Regions from separate parts of the Homo sapiens genome. Here region 1 is linked to region 2. Evidence: fine-mapped expression QTL. A gene starts in region 2. The other region holds a variant in brackets. All regions are shown on one strand. Distances are between the middles of the regions.

Region 1 (11,320 bases), 850 kb after region 2:
AATTACTTTAGTACACTCAGTGGAACAATCTCACAACCAGAAAGAAAGTGTACAAGTGCAGTAAGTACCAGAGTCCTGCTCCACACTAAGTACCAGAGTCCTGCTCCACACCGAGCGGCACGAAGTCGACAATAAATAATGAATGAATGCATTTTTTCAGTGGGGTCAAAGATTTACTATTGCTTCCAAGACTGATTAGCAGAAAATACATTAAATGTTAACATGATCTCAGCTTGGCATGATTACTATGTTGTGGGATTTTGTAAGTTTCTGTGATTTTAAACAAAATAAAGTAGAAGATTATTTCTCTTGTAGTGACAGAAAAACCACTAAAATGCAACATTTTGAAAAGAAATGGACTGATTTATTTCTGCTCCTTCTAATTCTGTAGCTGATTGACAGCTTAGTAGACACATGAGATGGCATTTCTATTAAGCAGTGGCTCTCAGGCTTGACATTCGAATCGCCTGGGAAACTGATCCACACCAACAGAAATGTTGATTTTAATTAAGCTGAGGTGGGGCTCAAGCATCAGCAATAACTGAGGCTTGCCAGGTGTTTCTAATGCACAGCCAGGTCTGAGAGTTTTATAGAGAAAGCTGTGAAGAAAAGAAAGCCCGACATAAACACCACCCAAGATGAATACAAAAGAGAAGCAGTTACTGAATTATCCCAGAAACTTGGACTGAAATCCCAGGTTTGTGCCCTGCTAGCAAACCACAAAGAGAATCCTGAAGACAGCTCTGACACAATAGTGCAGTTTGACCTTTATGTATTTATTTATTTTATTATTATTATTATTTTTTTTTTTTGATACGGAGTCTCGTTCCCTCACCCAGGCTGGAGGGCAGTGGAATGATCCTGGCTCACGGCAACCTCCCTGGTTCAAGCAATTCTCCTGTCTCAGCCTCCCAAGTAGCTGGGAATAGAGGCGTGCGCCACCATGCCTGGCTGATTTTTGTATTTTTGGTAGAAACGGGGTTTCACTATGCTGACCAGGCTGGTGTTGAACTCCTGACCTCAGGTGATCCACCTGCCTCGGCCTCTGAAAGTGCTGAGATTACAGATGTGAGCCACTGCACCCGGCTGCAGTTTGACCTTCAGAAGCTCCTTTCCTTTACTGTACCTCGATTTTCACCTCATTAAAACAACAGTGCTGCCCTCATGTCATGTTTACGCTTTCAGACACACCCACATTTAAATCCCATGTCCTGCCTGTACTATTTGCATGATGCTGGATAAGTCACTTCCCCTTTGTAGTAGCTTCCTTATCAATAATAGTCTTCCTTATCAATAACAGAACTTTATTAATAATAGTAGCAACCTACCTCATGCAGTCATTGTAAGGATTAAACAAATAGATATTTACAAAGTGTGGTGCACAATGCTTAGCACACAGTCACTGTCATGAGAACGGCTGTTCCCCGTCTCTTACCAAATAGCAATTGAAGAAACAGAAGGGCCGAGTGGGTCTGATACGGACGGCAACATTCCCCTCTTCTCCAGGAGGCAGGACGTTGCCCTCATCATCCACAATCTGGTAAGGAAATCATCACAGAGGTGCATACGTGAGTGTCTACACCCTGGGCCTCTCCCAGCAGCCCAGCAGCCCGTGCCAACCAGGCCTGTGTGTCTTTCTCCTCTCCATGCCAGGCCTTGCCAGAAGTTGGGGGAGGCTGCTACCTGCACATCGTAGGGTGGGGACGCCTTCCCCATGGATCCAGACTTGATTTTCATGCCTTTTGGATTGGCACAGATGACAACCTGGGGAGAACGCAGTACAGATAAAGAAGAGCCTTTCCACTTAGCTTCTTTCCTGGGCCATGCCTTTCTCTCACCCTGCCTGATAACTCTTTCTCTCATCCTCTTTTTTCTCCTCCCTCACTTTCTTCTTTCTTTCCCTTCTCCTCTCTCCATTTCTCTCCATTCTTCCTCCCTTCTTTCTTTTCTTTTTTCTTCCTTGCTCACTCCTTCCTTTCCTCTTTCTTTCCTTTCTTTCCCCTTTCCTGTTTTCTTCCTTCCCTCCTTCATTTTCTTTCCTCCTTTTTTTCATTCTTTTCCCCGTTATTTCATTCTCCATTTTCCTCTCTCCTCCCTTCTTCTTTGTTCCCTATTTCCTTCCTTCCATTCATCTTTTTCCCTTCCTTTCCTCCTTCTTTTCCTTTCTCTTTCCTTTATTTCCTCCCTCCCTTCCTTCTTCATTTTCTTCCTATTTTCTTCCCTCTTTCTTGCCTGTCTTTCTTCTTTTCTTTCCATAGTTAACAAACAATTATGGGGCACTCCAGTGGGCACTCAAACATAAAGAACTTAACCCATCTCTAAGCCAAAAGACTCAGTTGATCCCCAGATCTCTTCCTAGATGACTATAGAGGACGCTGCTTAGAATCTTGGACTCTGAACAGTGGCAGATGTAGACTGTCTTGGTGGAGACAAACAATGCCTTCAGCAGTGAGGGCTGGTTTGCTGGTCATGGTATAATTGTAAAAGTACTTTAAATTACCTTTTTTTAATTTATAAGTAGTGTGTGTGTGTGTGTGTGTGTGTGTGTGTGTGTGTATTTCAATAGCTTTTTGGGTTCGAGCGTTTTTTTGTAACATGGATGAATTCTATAGTGGTGAATCCTGAGATTTTAGTGCATCTGTAAGCTGAGTAGTGTACATTATACCCAATACGTAGTTTTTTTACCTTCACGCCCCTCCTCTCACCTTCTTCCTTCTGAGTCTCCAAAGTCTTTTATACCACTCTGTATGTCTTTGCATCCTCATAGCTTAGCTCCCACTTATAAGTGAGAACATATGGAAATCAAAAGGGAAGGAAAGCTGATGGAATTTTGTTATCAGCTTCTCCCCTGGGGGAAGGGTGGTCCCTGAGAAGCTTCAGGGAGGTGACAGCCGGAGAGGCAGGAAGCTCTCGAGGGGACCTGGGGGGTAGGGACCTGGCCCCTCCAGCACTCACCGTTTCAGACTGGCCATAGCCTTCGTACAGCTCCACACCAGTCTGGTGTTTCCACTTCTCCCTCACGTCAGGGTTGAGGGCCTCTCCTCCGGTCAGACAGTGCCTCAGGCTCTGAAACTGGTACCTTTCTCAGACAGGAAAACAAGGCCACCTATGTCAGGATCTTCATATCACCCCGCCCTCTGGTGCCACTGCCCAGATGCAAACACCACAGGCACTAGAGGGTAGATGCCCCTGCTTTTTAATCTTCTCTAAGTGAGTCCACCCACTGGCTTTGCAACCATGCTCCTCATGGACAGATAATTTTTAAAAGATCCATCCTATCTGAGTTTGAGATAAAATCAGAAGCTCATATAATAGGTTTTGGCATAATATGGTGAGTTCCAGGTAACTTGGCCAAAATAATTTAGTTGGAAAAAAACTGATAATAAATTGGTTAGGACAGTAATCTGATTGAAAAGGATAGATGAATTAGAAATTGAAAAGATAGGCCAGGCACCATGGCTCACACCTGTAGTCCCAGCACTTTGGGAGGCCTAGGTGGGCAGATTGCTTGATCTCAGGAGTTGAAGACCAGCCTGGTCAACGTGGTAAAACCCCGTCTCTACCGAAAAATACTAAAAATTAGCTGGGTATGGTGGCACATGCCTGTAGTCCCAGCTACTTGGAATGTTGAAGTGGGAGGAAAGCTGGAACCTGGGAGGCAGATGTTGCAGTGAGCTGAGATCATGCCACTGCACTCCAGCCTGGGCAACAGAGCAAGACTCTGTCTCTAAAATAAATAAATAAATAAAAATAAAAGAAAAAGGAAAAGAAAGGAAAGAAAAGAAAATGGAAAAGATAAAAATTAGACCCCTAAGAATCCCAAAAATTCCTACAGATATTAATTATGTTGCAAAATGCCCTCTCTGTTCAACAAATCATCCAAATTATAAAAAAGAACAGTGACTGCAAGTACATTTTTAATCTTGGAGGAGAGGGGAGATCAAATTGGCTTGATTAAGTTACTTATTATTACCAAAGAGCATTCAACGACATTGTTCTTAACGAGGTACTTGGAGCTTGCTTTCAGCCAAAATCATCATGTGGAGATGCACACATCAGATCAATGAATGGGATGATTTTCTTACATTGGAGAAGAATTCACTTTTAGAAGCATGTAAGAACTCCCTTTTTTGGACACTTGGTGGGTAGATTCATGTGATTAGGAAAGATGAGAGGACGACTCCTCATGACTTACGGGAGGACAAAAGAGGGAGAACAGGTCAGGGTTGGTGGATACTGAAGGACAGTGGGCCTCTCTCCATATACCCCAGCAACCAGCCCTGTTCTGCTAGAAGATGTTGCTTTGGCTTCACCCAGGATGGAGCCATCATCAGTGCCTTGTCCCTTTCTCTTGGGTGCCCAATGGCATGTGCTCAGAGAACAGTTGGCTGGGGTTAGTCTGAGGCTGAGAGTTGGGGCATCTACTGCGGTGCGGGCTTGTTAGTTTCACCACACCTGAGGGCCCTGGCCACAGACCCCACTCCACAGGTGGCTAACAATTTTCCAATCATTTCTCTCGCCTCACAGAAGTAGCAGACACACTGCTGACAGAATAGCCCATGGGTGTATGGTGTGAGGAGAAGCCTATCTCAGGTGCTAAAATTTCAGTCTGCCTTAAATCTATTTAGTTCCATCTGGATGCAAATTTTGGGGGGCCAGAAGCTTGTTCTTGAGGGGCATCTGTGAGATTTACAGGTATGTTGACTTGTCAATGTGTACGTGTATAAATGTGTGTGTGAGAGAGAGACAAAGAGAGAGGCAGAAAAATATATAGAGGGAGAGACAGAGAAAGAAAGAGAGTTGGAATGAGAGGGTAGTTGTGTGTGTGGATACCCATGCTATATATTCACATACTTAGGCCCTCAAAGCACGAAATAGACGGGCTGTACCTGGTCAGATCCTCCTGCACAAGCAGCCGAAAGATGGTTGGGACACAGCAGAGGGTGGTTATCGGGAATTTGGAGAGAGTCTAAACAAAAACAAAGGGTGAAAGATGTCCTTAGAATCATTGGGGTGGGACCATGAAGATGGAGCCAAATGCATCTTTATAGTCTCAGTACCAAAGCAGAGAAGCTGAAAACTATGTGTGGAATCCAGCAGCCAAGATGGTGTCCAGTGACTCCTACTTCCTGGCATGTGCACCTTTGGAGGATCCCCTCTCACCTCATACCAAAGTGGGTCTGTGACAGCAATGGCATACTGCCAAGGTGATGAATACCACTTTCAAGATTCGGTTATACAAAGACTATGGCTTCTGTCTTGGATATTCTTTCTCTCTGCCTTTCTTGGATCCCTTGTTCTGGGGGAAGCAAGCCACCATGTTTTGAGTATGCTCAAGCCATCCTACGGACAGGTGCACACAGTGAGAAACTGGAGACTAGCAAACACCCAGTGAGAAATTGAAGTCTACTAAAAACCACCAGTGAGGTTTTTGTTTTGTTTTTTGTTTGGTTTTTTGAGATGGAGTCTCACTCTGTCACCCAGGCTGGAGTGCAGTGGCAAGATCTCAGCTCACTGCAACCTCTGCCTCCCGGGTTCAAGCAATTCTCTGCCTCAGACCCCTGAGTAGCTGGGATTACAGGTGCCCACCACCAGGCCCGGCTAATTTTTGTATTTTTAGTAGAAACGGGGTTTCACCATCCTGGCCAGGCTGGTCTTTAACTCCTGACCTCATGATTCACCCGCCTTGGCCTCCCAAAGTGCTGGGATTACAGGTATGAACCACTGTGCCCGGCCACCAGTGAACTTTTAAGCAATTTTCCAGCTTCAGTCAATCCTTAAGATGATTGCAGTCCTAGCAAATATCTTCTTTAAAATTATTGTGGCAAAATACACACAACATAGGATTTGCCCATTGGAACGGTTTTTAAGTGTATAGTCCAGTGGGATTAAACATTTCCAGAGTGTTGTGCAACCATCGCTACCATCCACCTCCAGAACTATTTTTATCTTCTCAAACTTAAACTCTGTACCCATTACACAATAATTTCCCATTAATCTCTCCCCTAACTCCTGGTAAACACCATTGTACTTTCTGTCTCTATGAATTTGACTACTCTTGGAATCTCATGTAAGTGGAATCATACAGTATTTGTCCTTGTATGACTGGCATGTTTCACTTAGCATAATGTCCTCAAGGGTTATCCACGTTATATCATACAACAAGATGTCCTTCCTTTTTAAGGCTGGGTAATATTCCATTGTACATATACACCACATTTTGTTTATTCATTCATCTGTGGATGGACACTTGTGTTGCTTTCACCTTTTAGTTATTGTTAATGCTGCTATGAACATGAGCATACCTTGCTGACCTCTTGATTGCAACCTCATGAGAGACCCTGCTCCAAAAACCCCTCATTAAGCTACCTCCAGCTTCCTGACCATCAGAAACTGTGAGATAAATGCTTGTGTTTTAAAGTGCTAAGTTTCGGTATAATTTATTACATAGCAATAGATAATGAAAACACTATATCAGAGCTGGGGACAGTGCAAGGAGAAGGTCCATACATTGGCTGATCAAGCACTACATGGATAATGATGGTGATGAGTTTGATCATGATGATAACAATCAATATGGGTTAAGAATCTACTATATTTGGTCCACCATGTGATACCAGCTTACTCCTGCAAGAATGGCCATAATCAAAATATCAAAAAATAATAGATGTTGGCATGGATGCAGTGAACAAGGAACACTTCTACATTGCTGGTAGGAATGTAAACTAGTACAACCACTGTGGAAAACAGTGTGGAGATTCCTTAAAGAACTAAAAGTAGAACTACCATTTGATCCAGCAATCCCACTTCTGGGCATCTATCCAGAAGAAAAGAAGTCATATGAAAAAGATACTTGCACATACATGTTTATAGCAGCACAGTTTGCAATTGCAAAAATGTGGAACAAACCCAAATGCCCATAAATCAACAGGTGGGCAAAGAAAGTGTGGTATATAAATATATATAATGGAATACAACTCAGCCATAAAAAGGAATGAATTAATGGCATTCGCAGGGACCTGGATGAGATTGTAGACTATTATTCTAAGTAAAGTAACTCAGAAATGGAAAACCAAATATTTTATGTTCTCCCTCATAAGTGGGAGCTAAGCTATGAGGATGCAAAGGTGTAAGAATGGCACAATGGACTTTGGGGACTTGGGGAAAATGGTGGGAAGGGGGTGAGGGATAAAAGACTACAAATTGG[G/A]TGCAGTGTATACTGCTCAGGTGATGGGTGCACCAAAATCTTACAATCACCACTAAAGAACTTACTCATGTAATCAAACACCACCTGTTCCCCAATAACCTATGAAAATAATTTTTTTTTAAAAAAAGAATCTACTATGTTTTGAAGCAACCTAAGTGTCCATCAACAGATGAATGGAAAAAGAAGATGTACATATACACAATGGATCCATAAAAAAGAATGAGGTCCTGTCATTTGCTGCAACATGGATGGAACTGGAGATCATTATGTTAAGTGAAATAAGCCAGGCACATAAAGACTAACTTCACATATTCTCACTTATTTGTGAGATTTAAAAGTCAAAACAATTGAACTCATGGAAATAGAGATTAGAAGGATGATTACCAGAGGCTGGGAAGGGTAGTCGGGGGCTGGGAGAAAGGTGGGGATGGTTAGTTGGTACCAAAATAATAGAATGAATGAATAAGACCTGTTATTTTAAAGCACATCAGGGTGACTATAGTCAATAAAAACTTAATTGTACATTTTAAAATAACTGAAAGAGTATAATTAGATTGTAACACAAAAGATAAATGCTTTGAGGGTATGGATACCCCATTCTCTATGATGTGATTTTCACGCATTGCATGCCTACATCAAAACATCTCATGTACCCCATAAATATATACACCTACTATGTATCCACAAAAATTAAAAATTATTTCAAAAAAGAACCTATGATGTGCTGGCCCCTTTGCCTTGTATCATTTCATTCTCGCAGCAAATCTATAGAGAAATGTATCCCTTTCTTACAGATGAGGCTGAAACTGCAGCTCAGGAGATTAAGCAGCTTCCCCAAGGCCACACAGCTAGCGAATCAAAGGTGTAGGATCAGAGTCCAGGTCTGACTCTTTGACTGATGGCACAGCCTATGCAGTTAGCTACCATGTGATACAGCTTATCTCAGTACAAATAATATGAGCAGAAGTGTCCTCTGACATTTTAAGGAATGACAGGATGTGGGGGGTGGAAGAAAGGTGACCTGTGTCTTGACTGGGGCCACCAATCTCCTCCCTCCCCATGAGAAGACCCTGAGAGGCTGAGCAGGAGTCACCAGGACTCTCTAGTTGGGCCAACTACTCATGTTAAGAACCATGGACAGTAGCATTTGGAGTTGAGGCATAGACTGATTTTGCCTAAGGGTTTGACAAATACCTAGGGTTTTGGCAGGAGCATAGGGAAGAAAGTGGTGGAAACAAGGGCACCCCATGCAAAAGAAATAGCAACAAAATGGTCTTACATCTAGGAATGTAGCTAGAGCATAGGCAATGATTGAAGGGAACCAGGTGGTCAGGAACCAGATTATGGAAGGCCAGGGAGCCACACCAAAGAAGCCTTAAATTCACTGATTTATGTGTTTTCTCCTGCAGTCTGAAATCTATATCCCACTCATCTCATTTGTACCCAACACATATGGGGTATTGTTGGTTTTTCCTCTTACATTCAGGATAACTTTGGCATCAACTCGGGGCAGCTCATGCACAAAAATGCAAGATCCATTAGGCCAGGCAGAGAAGAGAGTCCAGGCTGCCTTCACCCAGCCAGTGTCAGTCGTGTTCCAGAAGATGTCAGATTCGGTCAAGGCCACCCACCGTCTGCCAAAAATTAGAGAACGTCAGTAACCTTGGCAATGACTCTACCTTTAAAAAGGATTGTATTATCTATATCACCACATTTGGAGCCCTGCTCAGTGGGTACTCACTTATACTTGTGAAACCTGAACAAGACCATCAAGTCAACTATTGTCTCAACCAGCATCTTCCATGTACCTATGCCCTAGGCTAAGAATACAGAAGCAAAAAGAGTTTCCAGAAAGTTCACAGTCCAGTGGATGTGATATATAAGGGGAAAAAATTAACCTCAATACTCTGTGCTAAGGTCACTTTATTTAGCCAACATTTATTTAGCATTTAGTCTGGACTTAGCACTAGGGATCTAGAAATGAACGATTAGTCTTGCTTTGAGGGCCTTATAGGAAGCCCCTGGAGAGCATGTTTTAATAGAGCTAAACACAAAGCCTTGTGCAATTATAGAGAATAGGCACCTAACCCAGAGCAATGATGGACATGGGTTTCTGAGAAATGCTCTGGTAGAGGAAGTGACACTTGAGTTAGACATAAAGAATAAATAGGGATTATATAGGTGAGGCAGAGAAGCAGGAGCATCCCAGGAATGGGAAACAGTGTCTGCAAACATGGAAGACATAAAAAGCGGTCATGCACTTGAATCCTGGGACACGCGCACTCCTGGTTCTCCCCATTTCATTGGCTGTTCCCTTCTCAGTCTCCTCTGCTGAGTCCTCCTGGTCTTCCCCTTCAGTGCAGAAATGCCTCGGGCACTCAGTCCTGAGACCCATTCTCTTTTCAGTTTATATTACACTTTGCTGATCTCATCCCATCTCATGGTATGAAATACCATCTTTACACTGATAAGTTCAGCATGAATCTTTCTCATTAACTTCAGACATGTGTATCCAAATGCCCACTCAACATCTCCACTTTTAACAAGGAGATGGAGATTTCTAAGAAGACTCTCAAATTGACAACTCCATAAACAAACTGTTTTCTTGCCACCAGACAGCTCATCCCACAGTTCTTCCCCCATCATTTAGTGCTTCCAGTTGTTCAGGCCATTCCTCTTAGAGCTCTCCTTGACTCCTCCTTCTCATTCCACACTGATTCTGTCAGCAAGCCTTATTGGGTCTAGGTTGAAAATACATTCAGAATCTCATCTCTTCTCCCACTACTGCTCCCCGGGCAAGCTACCATGCTTGCCTCTTAATGCACTGGTCATCTTCTTTACCTGTTTCCCCTACAGTTACATTGTCAACCCAACATCCTGAGTGAGCCTTTAAAAAACATATTAGATTATGTCACTCCTCTGCTCAAAATACCCAATGCTTCTCAAAAAAAATTAAACATAGAATTACCATATGATCCAGCAATTTCATTTCTGCATGTATATCCAAAAGAAGTAAAAGCAGAGACTCTAACAGATACTCACATGCCAGTGTTTATAGCAACATTATTGACAATAGCCAAAATGTGGAAGCTACCCAAGTGTCTATCAACAGGTGAATGGATTATTTAAAATGTGGTCGAGGCCAGGTGCAGTGGCTCATGCCTGTAATCCCAGCACTTTGAGAGGCCAAGGCGTGAGGATCATGAGGTCAGGAGTTCGAGACCAGCCTGGCCAACATGGTGAAACCCGGTCTCTACTAAAAATACAAAAATTAGCTGGGTGTGGTGGCGGGCACCTGTAACCCCAGCTATCTGGGAGGCTGAGGCAGGAGAATTGCTTGAAACTGGAAGGCAGAGGTTGCAGTGAGTGGAGATCGCACCACTGCACACCAGCCTGGGCAAAAGAGCAAAACTCTGTCTCAAAAAAATAAAAATAAAATAAAAAATAAAAATAAATAAAATGTGGTCTATCCATACAATGGAATATTTTTCAGTCTTAAAAGGGAAGGAAATTTTGACACATGCTATGACACGGATGAACCTTGAGGACATTATGCTAAGTGAAAGAAGCCAAATTGCAAAACAAAAGGACAGACTGCATGATGCCAGTTACACGAAATACCTAGAGTATCAAATTCACAGAGATGAAAAGTAAAATAGAGGTTACCAGGGGTGAGGGGAGAGGGTAATGGGGTGTTATTGGGTAATGGGGGCACAGTTCTCATTTGGAAAGATAAAGTAAATTCTGGAAATGGATGGTGATTGTGGTTGCACAACAATGTGAATGTATTTAATGACATTAAACTGTACACTTAAAATGGTTAAAAGGGTACATTTATGATATATGTATATATATGTTTATATGTGTATGTATGTATATATATGTGTGTGTGTATATATATATATATATATATATATATATATATATATATATAGCCACGATTTAAAAAGAAACCTCCCATGGCTTTTCACCTCACTCAGAGTAAAATCCAGAACCATCAAGATCCTTCCTAAGCTGCTCCTATTGGCTTCTCAGTAATTCTGTTGGCTCTCTGACCTCCGTTCCTGACACCTTTCCCCTCACACCACCCCCTCCAGACCACTCCCCACTTTC
Region 2 (11,320 bases):
GGTACAGCTCTACCCTGCTGCCATCTTCACTGTGGTAGTGGCAGAAGTCTAGGGGGATGTAAGTAACCACCTCCTCCGCAGGGTCTGTTAGGGGTTAGCAGGGAACTTCCAGAGGCTCAGGCACAGGAGCTTACATGGCCCCCAGGCTTGTCCCAGGACAAGGTCTCAGGGAAGGGCGGGGAAAAGAGATTTACACCAGCTTTCTCAATACTGACCCCTGCATTACTAAAAAGTTTATTAATCTTCTTTCTGTTAAGTCATAATTATAATAATAATTTCATTATTTTAATAATAATAAAATAAACCTCAATAACACCTAATATTTAATATGCTACTTATTAATAATACTTATTATTGGAGGCTTGGGACAATTAGTTCTCTGTGCCTCTGGTCTCAAAAGAAGTGATGCAACCAAGACTAGTTTTCTCAGTGCTACTTTACTGAGGACCTGGGTGATGTGAACCAAAGCTTTATCAGGAAGATGATTTGAGATGATTTGCAGAGTTGTCCTGTTTCTACAGGATTCACTGGAGTGAATTCCTATTATTGAGGTTTCTTATTTTGTCATTGTTAAAATAATGAAATTACTATTATAATCATGACTTAAAGAAGATTAATAAACTTTCTAGTAATGTGGGAGTCAGAAATAAGATTTCTATTTAATCGGGGCTAAATTCCTGAATTTACTATGGAAGCAAATAAATATCTGGCTTTCTTATTTCATATCTCTTTTAGTTGATGAGTATTTGGTTTTGCTTTTTTTCTCCTTGTTAACTTTAAAAAAAAAACCACACAATTTATAAATTTAGACAAGAAGAGACTTTCTTATACGAGGTTACAGCCTGCAAGGTGGGATCCTATGCTGGGAAGCACGCTGTATTATTCCGTTTTCATGCTGTCTATAAACACATGCCTGAGACTGGGCAATTTACAGAAGAAAGAGGCTTATTGGATTTACAGTTCCACATGGCTGGGGAGGCCTCACAATCATAGTGGAAGGCAAGGAGGAACAAGTCACATCTTACATGGAGGGCAATAGCAAAGAGAGAGCTTGTGCAGGGCAACTCCCATTTTTAAAACCATCAGATCTCGTGAGACTCATTCACTATCATCAGAACCGCAGGGGAAAGACCCGCCTCCATGATTCAGTCATCTCCCACTGGGTCCCTCCCACAAGATGTGGGAATTATGGGAGCTATAAGAAGAGATTTGGGTGTGGACATGGAGCCAAACCATATCACATGCCTTGGCCAAGATCAGAGACAGGCACTTTGAAGGAGGAGGGTTGGGGTAGGAGCTTTATGCTCAACAGGTTGGCTAAATATACATATTCAACAGGTGAGAGAAGAAGCTATGAATATTCATGAAAGTGGTCCTGATGCATGTGTATTTAACAAACATGCATGTTACATACAACTCATGTTCATTTTGGGGTGGTTGCAGCATTTAAATGTATTACAATTCAGCCTGATACGTCAAAAGGTCTTTTCAGGACATGAAGGCATGCAAGTGTGCAACCTCTGTAAGTCAGCCAGAACCATCCTATAGTCGGTAGTCTTATCAGGAGAAAGTTACTGAAATCAGTCTCTTGTCCAATCAAGCTGTAGTTATGGCTGGTGGAACAAGGGGTCGGTTAGTCAATATCTGTGATTTGGATGAGTTGTAATTGTTTTAATATTGCATATCTTCAGCCGGGCACGGTGGCTCATGCCTGTAATCCCAGCACTTTGGGAGGCCAAGGCGGGTGGATCATCTCAGGTCAGGAGTTCGAGACCGAGACCAGCCTGGCCAACATGACAAAACCCCATCTCTACTGAAAGTACAAAAATTAGCCGGGGGTGGTGGCATGCACCTGTAATCCCAGCTACCTGAGAGGCTGAGGCAGGAGAATCACTTGAGATCATGCCACTGCACTCCAGTCTGGGTGACAGAGAGGGACTTTGTTTCAAAAAAAAAATTTATATATATATATATGCACATATATACATATCTATATAGATACATAGATACATATACATATCTATATAGATACATAGATACGTATATATGTATATACATATATGTTTGTGTATATATATATATACAGAGAGAGAGAGAGAGAGAGAGAGAGTGAGAGAGAGAGAGAATCACTCTGTTGTCCAGGCTGGAGTGCAGTGGCACGATCTCGGCTCACTGCAACCTCCACCTCCCTGGTTCAAGCAATTCTCCTGCCTCAGCCTCCTGAGTAGCTGGGATTACAGGCACATGCTACCACACCTGGCTAATTTTTGTACTTTTTGTAGAGATGGGGTTTCATCACGTTGGCCAGGCTGGTCTCAAACTCCTGACCTCACATGATCCGCCCGCCTTGGCCTCCCAAAGTGCTGGGATTACAGGTGTGAGCCACTGTGCCCAAGCCATGTTCCCTATCTTCTCTGAGCAGGGCTGGGGAAAACAAAAACAAAAATATTGCTTATCTTCAAGCCAGTGCTTGTTTAGCTGCTGGAGAAAACAAAAACTCTGTGGCAGTTAGAACATAGCTTTTTTCTTTAAGTGTAAGGGTGCGTGACTTAACCCTTCCTGGCATGGCCTTAGATCCTGTTTATAATTTGTTATCGTATTGCCACAAAGAGTCTGTTCTGTCAGTCTTGTGATCTCTGTATTAACATTAAGGCTGCTCAGTTGTGTCTAAACTCTAAAAGGGAGAGGATGTAATGAGGCATATCTGATTTGCCATCCCATCATGGCTGGAAACTAAGTCTTTAAGGTTTTTCTGGGGTCTGCTTGGCCCAGAGGGGGTTCATTCAGTAGGTGGGGGGCATAGGATTTTATTTTTAGTTCACATTCACAAAAACAAAGGGCCAAAAAAGTCTTACTGTGTCACACAGGCTGGAGTGCAGTGGTGCAATCTTGGCTCATTGCAGCCTCCATCTCCCGGGTTCCAGCAATTCTCCTGCCTCAGCCTCCTGGGTAGCTGGGATTACAGGCACCCGCCACCACACCCAGCTAATTTTTGTATTTTTAGTAGAGAGAAGATTTTACCATGTTGGCCAGGCTGGTCTCGAACTCCTCACCTCAGGTAATCCACCCACTTGGGCCTCCCAAAGTGCTAGGATTACAGGCGTGAACTATCATGCCAGGGCTATATGTCTGTGCTTTCTAAACCCAATAAATGTGATGTAATATTAATGCTAACAGCACACGTGATGGGCCAGAAACATTTCTATAAGCCCAGCGGCTCTGGGCATAAATTTCTAGGGATGGTGAACCGAAGAAACAAAATTGTGTCATTGAAATCAGCTTTTCCCAACCACCAGTGTCTTCTCTCTCTCTCTCTTTCTCTCTCAGTGTTCACTTATTACATGGCTACTCTGTGCCAAGCACTGTTGCTAAACACATTATGTACAATTTCTCATTTCATTGGTACTGATTTTGACACTTACTCATCCACTGTCTTTTATCATGATGTGACCATTTCCTACAAAATGCCCTATGTAGCTTCCAACCAAAATACCACAAAGCACAACTTCAGCAGTCCTGCCTCTTGACCTTCTCCCAGGCTCTGCTCTCGCTCATCTGTTCCATCCTTTGCATTGGCAGAAGACCCATCTTTCTAAATGCTTACTCTCTTGGAGCATGTAATTTCTTTCCTAGGAATCACCATTCTCAGCTGCCTGACTCCAAGAATCGTTCTCAGTTTTATCTTCTGATGCTCCTAGACCTCAGCACCTTATTCCAGCCTAACACATCTGGCAACTCACTGTTCCCAGAGCTATTCAACATGCCTTCCACCTCAGGGCTTTACTTGGCCTGTAATGCCCTCTTCCTCTCTTTCTGCCAAAGTAGCTTAATGATTAGGAATATAATTCTGAAGTCCAACCATGGGCAAAGCCAGCTCCTCTGCTGACTTGGTGGATGACCTTGAACTAAATTTCTTCCCTTCTCAGAGCCTCCAATGGACAGTAAAACTAATAACAACACCTCCCTACCTTAGAGGTTGTTGTATAATTAAATGAGATAATATACATAAAGTGCATGGTGCAGTATCTGGTACATAGTAAAGATCAATAACCTGATGTTATCATTGTTGTCGTCACTATTATTATTTCAGACCTTGGTTTCTCCCCACTCTTTCATGAAGCCCTTATCTAACCACTCCAGGTCAAAATCATCTCTCTTTTCTTTGAATTAACTTACTTTTCCTATCACTGATTTGATGACTAGGATTTATTGCCTTAAGCTTTACATCATTCCTTTCCGATTTTATTTCCCCATCTCAGGTAAAAACTCCTGGAAGAAAAGATCCTGCAATTTGGCTTTTTGTGAGATGGAAAAGATTACACCTTGCCCTGCAAACTTCCCCCCTTTAAAGGCGAAGGTTTGTTAGGTTAGTTAGCCTGTGAGAAAACTGTGCGTTCTTAGCAATCAAAGGCCAGACATCTGGGGGTACAGGGGGGAGGAAGACTAGGATAAGAGACTCTAGACGGGGACAGAATTAAAAGGAAAAAAAAATTAAATAAGCCTCCGTCTCCTTTTATCTCCTAGCAGTAGGCAGTAATTTAATAAATAAAGGAGCCCCGTTAGCGTTTTCCCTGTCCATTCTTTCCCAGGCACGGTGACCTAGACAGCAGCAAAAAGCGAGTTAATAGGGAGGGGTTATGTAGGAAGCAAAAGTCAAGGAATGTGGCTACAGCTGATTACAGGAACTGAGAAAGTGGACCAAACAATATTGACTCCCAGCACGCCACCGCGATGTCCATCTTGGGGAATCCGTTGCTGGAAGGGACCCATCTCGCCCACCCTTAGGGGTCGAGGTGGGCGAAGGGGGAGGAGAGGGCTGGCGGGGCGGGGCGGGGTTGCTCCGCCCCCGGAGGCTGGGCTGTGACCAGCAGGCGGCTCCACAGAGCAGCGGGCGCGCTCATAAAGGGCACAGCCGAGGGTACGTGGATCGCGGTGCGGAGACTGAGGTTAGAAGGCACAGGTGGCGAGATGAGCCGGGTACCAGCGTTCCTGAGCGCGGCCGAGGTGGAGGAACACCTCCGCAGCTCCAGCCTCCTCATCCCGCCTCTAGAGACGGCCCTGGCCAACTTCTCCAGCGGTCCCGAAGGAGGGGTCATGCAGCCCGTGCGCACCGTGGTGCCGGTGACCAAGCACAGGGGGTGAGTGAGGAGGGTCGGGGTCAGGGGCAGGAGAAACTGGAAAGCGGGGAAAGGAGGAGCAGGAAGAGGAGGGGTGGGAGAAGGGAAGAGACGGCTTGCCTAACCGTTGCTAACAGCTGCCACTTTTAATAGGCGCTACCCGGTGTGCTAAGTGGGCGTTTTACAGGTGTTACCTTGTTTATTTCAGCACACTCTCCACCTAGGGAGGTATTGATACCACCATTTGATTGGTGGAAAACTGAGACTCAGAGAGGTTAAGTGACTTACCTAAGCTTACACAGCTACTAAGTGGCAGAGCTGGAAAGGTTTTCTGATCCAGAGCCAGACTTCTGAACATACTGTGCATAGTGTCTAAGGGAAGGGCAGAGGGATGCGGGGGCTGGAAGAGGGCCAGTGGGGTGGTGAGGAAGGAAAGAAAAAGGAAAGTATATGGATACTTTCTAAGAGACCCCAGCATTGATGGGAAGGGGCTGAAGCTGCTCCCTCTCTCCTTGTAGCTACCTGGGGGTCATGCCCGCCTACAGTGCTGCAGAGGATGCACTGACCACCAAGTTGGTCACCTTCTACGAGGACCGCGGCATCACCTCGGTCGTCCCTTCCCACCAGGCTACTGTGCTACTCTTTGAGCCCAGCAATGGCACCCTGCTGGCGGTGAGCAACTTCCTGTCCCGGGGTGGAATGGGGCCCCTGGGCCCAGATTGAAGCTCAAAAGTAAGTTCTCCGCAGCAGGGGGAGTCTTGATTGTGACTACGCGTGCCCCTCTGCAAGTGACTGGATACCAGCAACAGTGAAGGTTATCTGTGTCCATGTATCTATTTCTAGGACTGCCTGAGGATGCATAACACGGCACCAGCGCCCACTGCTGCCTCAAGCATGTGACAGTGTGGAAATAATAATCTTGTTGTCATTCTTGCATATGTCCTTGTCCTATACTCAGTTGCCCCAAATACGCAGCTTGAATGAACCCATTAGCCAAGGGAAGACTTACTTACTGAATCCTTGTCGACATGGAAAAGAAGGGGTGTTCTATAATCCCTGGGAGTCTTCAGAGGGGTATACGGTGTGACCTGTTTTAATATCTAATCATAGTTTCAAAAGGTAGCAGTAGCTTGTGTTTATGGAGTACTTTTTATAATGCATCAGGCACTTTTCTAAACATTTCACATTTATTAATCCTCTTAATACTTAAAACTATTCTATGATATGGGTAATATGATTACTCCCACTTTATAGATGAGGAAACCGAGTCAGAGCAACTATGTTCAACTTACCGAGGTTTATGTAACCAACAATTAGCATGGTTGGACTTCAGAGCTGCTCAGTCTAAGTCCACGGTCCATAGGTCCAGACTCTTCTAAGACCACCGCCATTTTAACTGCTACATATTGGGCACTTATGTGCCAAGAAGGAGACGCTGATCACATTCAATTCTGCAAAATTCCTCTATGGGTGTTTTTATTAACTCCCCTTCCCCCCAATTTCTGTTGAGGTCCTTGAGGCTCAGGTTAGTAGAGTCACTTTGCTTGAGGTCACACATCTGGTTAGTGAAAGACTCAAGAATCACTCCCAGGTGTGACAGTTAACTCTTAAGGTCTGTGCGCTCCAAGCTGGGTCTTACAATGTCCCTCCTTTTCCCCTGAATTTCTGGATCGCCAAATAATCTGGCCGTTTAACACTCCTTTGAGAATATCTAGCTTTCCCCAACTTACACTCATCCAACCGAGATGGCATTCATACTACCTGCCAACAGCGGTTCCCTAGGGGGGTAGAACCCAAGGCTTTGAAACTAGATGACAGCTGAATCTGCTCAGTGACTTCGTGATTCACTTCCTCATCTGTAAAATGAGGTTGATGATGCCTATTTTTTGATGATCAGCTGAGATGAATAACAGGGAGAGGAGTGCAGAGGATGGTTTTTACTAGCGAGGCATAATTTTCAACCTTCGCTGTGTATCGGAATCACCTGGGCTGTCTGGGTCTCACTCCTGGAAGAGATACAGACTGGGTTAATCTAAGGGTGGTATCTGAGCATCTTCACGAAGCTTTCCACATGTGCAGCAGGAACGGAGAGCCACTAAGAGTTTCATGGCCGTTGTCCAGATGTCAATTGGCAACCTTCTCTCTCTAGTTCCTTCTTAATTTGGTGTTTTGAGAATCCTAGGGCAAGAAAAGAAAATGGGCAGTTCTTGAGGGCTCACCATGTGCTAGATGTTTCCAGATATGCCAGTGCATTTAATCCTCACAATAACCCTCTGAATGGCTGGCATTATCTTTTTTACAGGTGAGGAAACCAGTGCTTAAAGATTAAAGTGTTTGTTCAAAGTTGCATATCTCGTAAGTGGAGGAATCGGATCCAGGTCTGACGCCAAACCCATGCTGTTTGTAGGATGCTATAAAACTTCCTAAGCTAATATTTTAGAACTGTTTCTTCTAATTTATGCAGTGGACAGGGGTTCCCCTTGCTCACTGTCTCTCTTTTCCTCCAAGGTCATGGATGGAAATGTCATAACTGCAAAGAGAACAGCTGCAGTTTCTGCCATTGCCACCAAGGTAAGATGAATGGCTGGCTGTACCATTAAGGTGAGCTGTCAAGTGGGGTCTGGTGTCTCAATCTTGAGAGACTAAAGGAGAAGTGGGGAACTTATTTTGGTTTCCTGTTGGACATAGCTGGAACTCCAGATGTCAGATATATCAGTAATTCACGAAATTATTAGCTACCAATTAGTGTGCATGACCAGATTTCAAGTACCTTATGTGCATAATTCTCAATCTTCCCATCAGTCTTGAAGAATCGAAATGAGAAATTCTCTCCACCTTCCAGGTCAAGGAATATGGCTCAGAGAGCTTCTGTGAATTGCCCAGGATCACACAGCTAATAAGTGCTAGAGTAAGAATTTAATACTTGACCTCTCTGGCTTCCAGGACTGGCTTCTTGTCCCTGTACCACATTGCCCCTGGTAAGACAGTATAATTGTCCCATAGACCAAAGCTAGTACTACACAAGAGGCTGAGTGAACTGAACATATCCAAGCCAGATCCCTGTATTCATTCGACAAGTATTGACTGGGCTTCTATCATGTGTCAGGCACTGTTCTAAATGTTAGGGAAATGGCAGTGAGAAAAACAGAGGGGCACACACAGGGGAGGTAGACAATACCAATAAAAAGGAAAACACAGGCTGGGTACAGTGGCTCACGCCTGTAATCCCAACATTTTGGGAGGCTGAGGCAGGCGTATCACTTGAGCTCAGGAGTTGGAGACCAGCCTGGTCAACATGGTGAAACCTCGTCTCTTGTAAAAACACAAAAATTAGCTGGTCGTGGTGGTGGGCGCCTATAATCTCAGCTACCCGGGAGAGTGAGGCAGGAGAAACGTTTGAACTCAGGAGGCAGAGGTTGCAATGAGCCCAGATCGAGCCACTGCACTCTAGCCTGGGCAAAAGAGTGAGTGTCTTAAAAAACAAAACAAAAAGGAAACAAAACAAAACAAACAAAAACATCTGTTGAGTTTAATAATGTGTTAAATAGTAATAAATAATATGTAATTAAATAATTAGTACATATTAATAAATGATTAATAGCGTGCTTAGAATTTGCTAAAAAATAAAACCAACAATAATCCAAAAAGCCACATAACATGTTAGGTGAAGATAAAGCAGAAGTGAGAGTATTGGAGAAGCTGTCACATTTTACATTATCCAAGAAAGGCCTCCCTGAGAAGGTGACATTTGAGTCAAAGCTGAAAGCAGTGAGTTAGCGAACCATGCAAAAACACGGAGGGGCACTCCAGGCAGAGGGAACAGTAAGCAATGGGGGTGATGATGTTCCCAAGCAATGTCAAGGCATCCTATAAGAAAAACAGCATTTTTAAAAGTTAGAGTTAAGAGGATGAGGCTTAGGAAACAGGGTGTCTGTGGGAACGATTGGAGTCTGGAGTCTTTCACATTAAATGTGGAAGTACAAGGTCTTGGGACACTGGTTTTCCTAAGTTATTATAAAGGAAACGTGGTAACCCAGGGAAAGTTGCAGCAGCAAAGACCAGGTGTTCAGGTTGCATGTCGAGGTTTTCTAGATACCTGCTGGGGAGGGAAGAATGGGAGGATTAATCTGGTAATTGTATGCGAAGGGAGTAGACCAACAGCACCCACCTCAATGAACTGGTTTTTAGTTATATCCAGACCTGACTCAACTGAAGTAATCAAGGACTCCTTGCTATGTTTGCTGGTAATTTGGGAACAGAATGAATCTTGTATTACTGTCATTTGCAAAGAGCTTTAGTCTTTTTCAAACTCATTTCCAGCCCCTTGTCTGGACTACGAGTTTCTGTGAGGAAGGCAGAGAAAGTATTAATGGCCTCATTTTACGCATAAAAGAATAGAAACTTGGGTTTCCTGAAGTCATACAACCAGGTTCCTGCGGGTCCTTTTGAGGCCACATGGTCTTGTCCCAGATAAGAAGTTTCCAACAGAAGCAAGCTATGCAGCAGCATTAGCTAGGGAAGTTTTTAAAAACTCAAATTCCCATGCCTACTGAATCAAAATCACAGAGTGAGGATCAACCAGGTCTGGAAACCACACTTTTGTAGACCCAGCCTGCAATAACACTGCTTTGTTGCATTAATAAAAATCTGTGCTCCCAGAAGAATCAAGAAGCCTTGGGTTGACACTTCAAAGTTTAGACACTTCAAAGTTTAGGCTGAAACTTCACAGCTTTATTTCCAGGGGCTCAGATGAACTGTTTCAATAAGGAACAAAGGGTCTATTTTACTTGTTGCCTTGAGAGTAGAATATTTTCTTGTCCATCATTTCTCTTCTATTTAGGGCTCTTGTTGGGGAGAATAAGTATACGGAGCTCTAGGGTCTGATGAACATAATACATTTTTTGTGCTTGGGTCTCACATAAGCTTCATTGAAGCCTCTGATATGTTTTCTCAAGGTGATAGTATATATTAGGGTTTAGCACTAACATACATTTATTCAACAAATATTTGAGTGTCCACCAAATGCAAGGTTCTGCGCTCAGCATGGGGTAAGCAAAACCAGATACAGTACTTGCCCTCATGTAGTACAGGGTCCAGTGGGGGAGGCAAGATATAGTCCAAAGATCACATCAATAGGCTGGGCGCAGTGGCTCACGCCTGCAATCCCAGCACTTTGGGAGGCTGAGGCAGGCAGATTACCTGAGGTCAGGAGTTCAAGACCAGCCTGACCAACATGGAAAAACCCCATCTGTACTAAAAAAAAAAAAAAAAAAAAAAAAAAAAAAATTAGCTGGGCATGGTGGCAGGTGCCTGTAATCCCAGCTACTTGGGAGGCTGAGGCAAGGGAATTGCTTGAATCCTGGAGGCGGAGGTTACAGTGAGCCAAGATCACACCACTGCACTCCAGCCTGGACAACGAGTGAGACTCAGTCTCCAAAAAAAAAAAAAAAATTCACACCAATAAATATGAAACTACAACGCTGACAAGTGCTGTAAGAGTGTAAAGCAGTATGTCTTGATCTAGCCTGTGGCTGTGTCTCTGTAGGGGATATTTGAGCTGAGATTGAAGGATAATCAGTTACTTGTGAGGGGGAGAGGGGACAAAGCAGCCTAGCATCGTATGGCAAGGAATTAATTCATGCAAAGGCCCTGTGGTTGAAGGAAGTACATGAGCTTGGGAAGCTGCAAGGAAGCCAGTATGGCTGGAAGACAGGAAGTGCAGGGGAACATGGCATGGTGGTATGAGAGACAGCTTTAGAGATAGGAGGGCCAGACCATGCAAGGCCTTGGCAAATGCAAATGAAACAGACTTTCAGACTCTTTAAATGAGAAACCCAGCAGATTCATATACGTGTACTTAATAACCTGCATGCTTAGGAGAAAAGATTGAAGTGCCACTAATGCTGTTTAATAAATCTTATAAACATATGATTAAAAATCGGCTGGGTGCAGTGGCTTACACCTGTAATCCCAGCACTTTTGGAGGCCGAGGCAGGTGGATCACTTGAGGTCAGGAGTTCGAGACCAGCCTGGCCAACATGGCGAAACCCCATCTTTACCAAAAAAAAAAAAAAAAATTAGCCAAGTATGGTGGCACATACCTGTAATCCCAGCTACTCGGGAGGCTGAGGCATGAGAATCGCTTGAACCCAGGAAGCAGAGGTTGCAGTGAGCTGAGATCACACCGCTGCATTCCAGCCTGG

The links.
Region 1: its variant is fine-mapped to the expression of CRYM in caudate (GTEx, PIP 0.98).

What each region holds. Positions count from the first base shown.
Region 1 is chr16:20,421,437-20,432,756 of GRCh38, reverse strand. ACSM5 (acyl-CoA synthetase medium chain family member 5) reads right to left here. Exons shown (of 14, transcript NM_017888.3): 6 at 8,688-8,841; 7 at 4,890-4,969; 8 at 2,956-3,079; 9 at 1,684-1,764; 10 at 1,436-1,537. Among named protein-coding and RNA genes, the nearest start is that of ACSM5, 18 kb to the right of the region's middle. The variant G/A (reference allele first, on the strand shown) is at 7,208.
Region 2 is chr16:21,271,900-21,283,219 of GRCh38, reverse strand. CRYM (crystallin mu) reads left to right here and starts at 4,930. Exons shown (of 8, transcript NM_001376256.1): 1 at 4,930-5,138; 2 at 5,636-5,789; 3 at 7,626-7,688. The coding sequence starts at 4,969. RefSeq lists an enhancer at 4,929-5,138.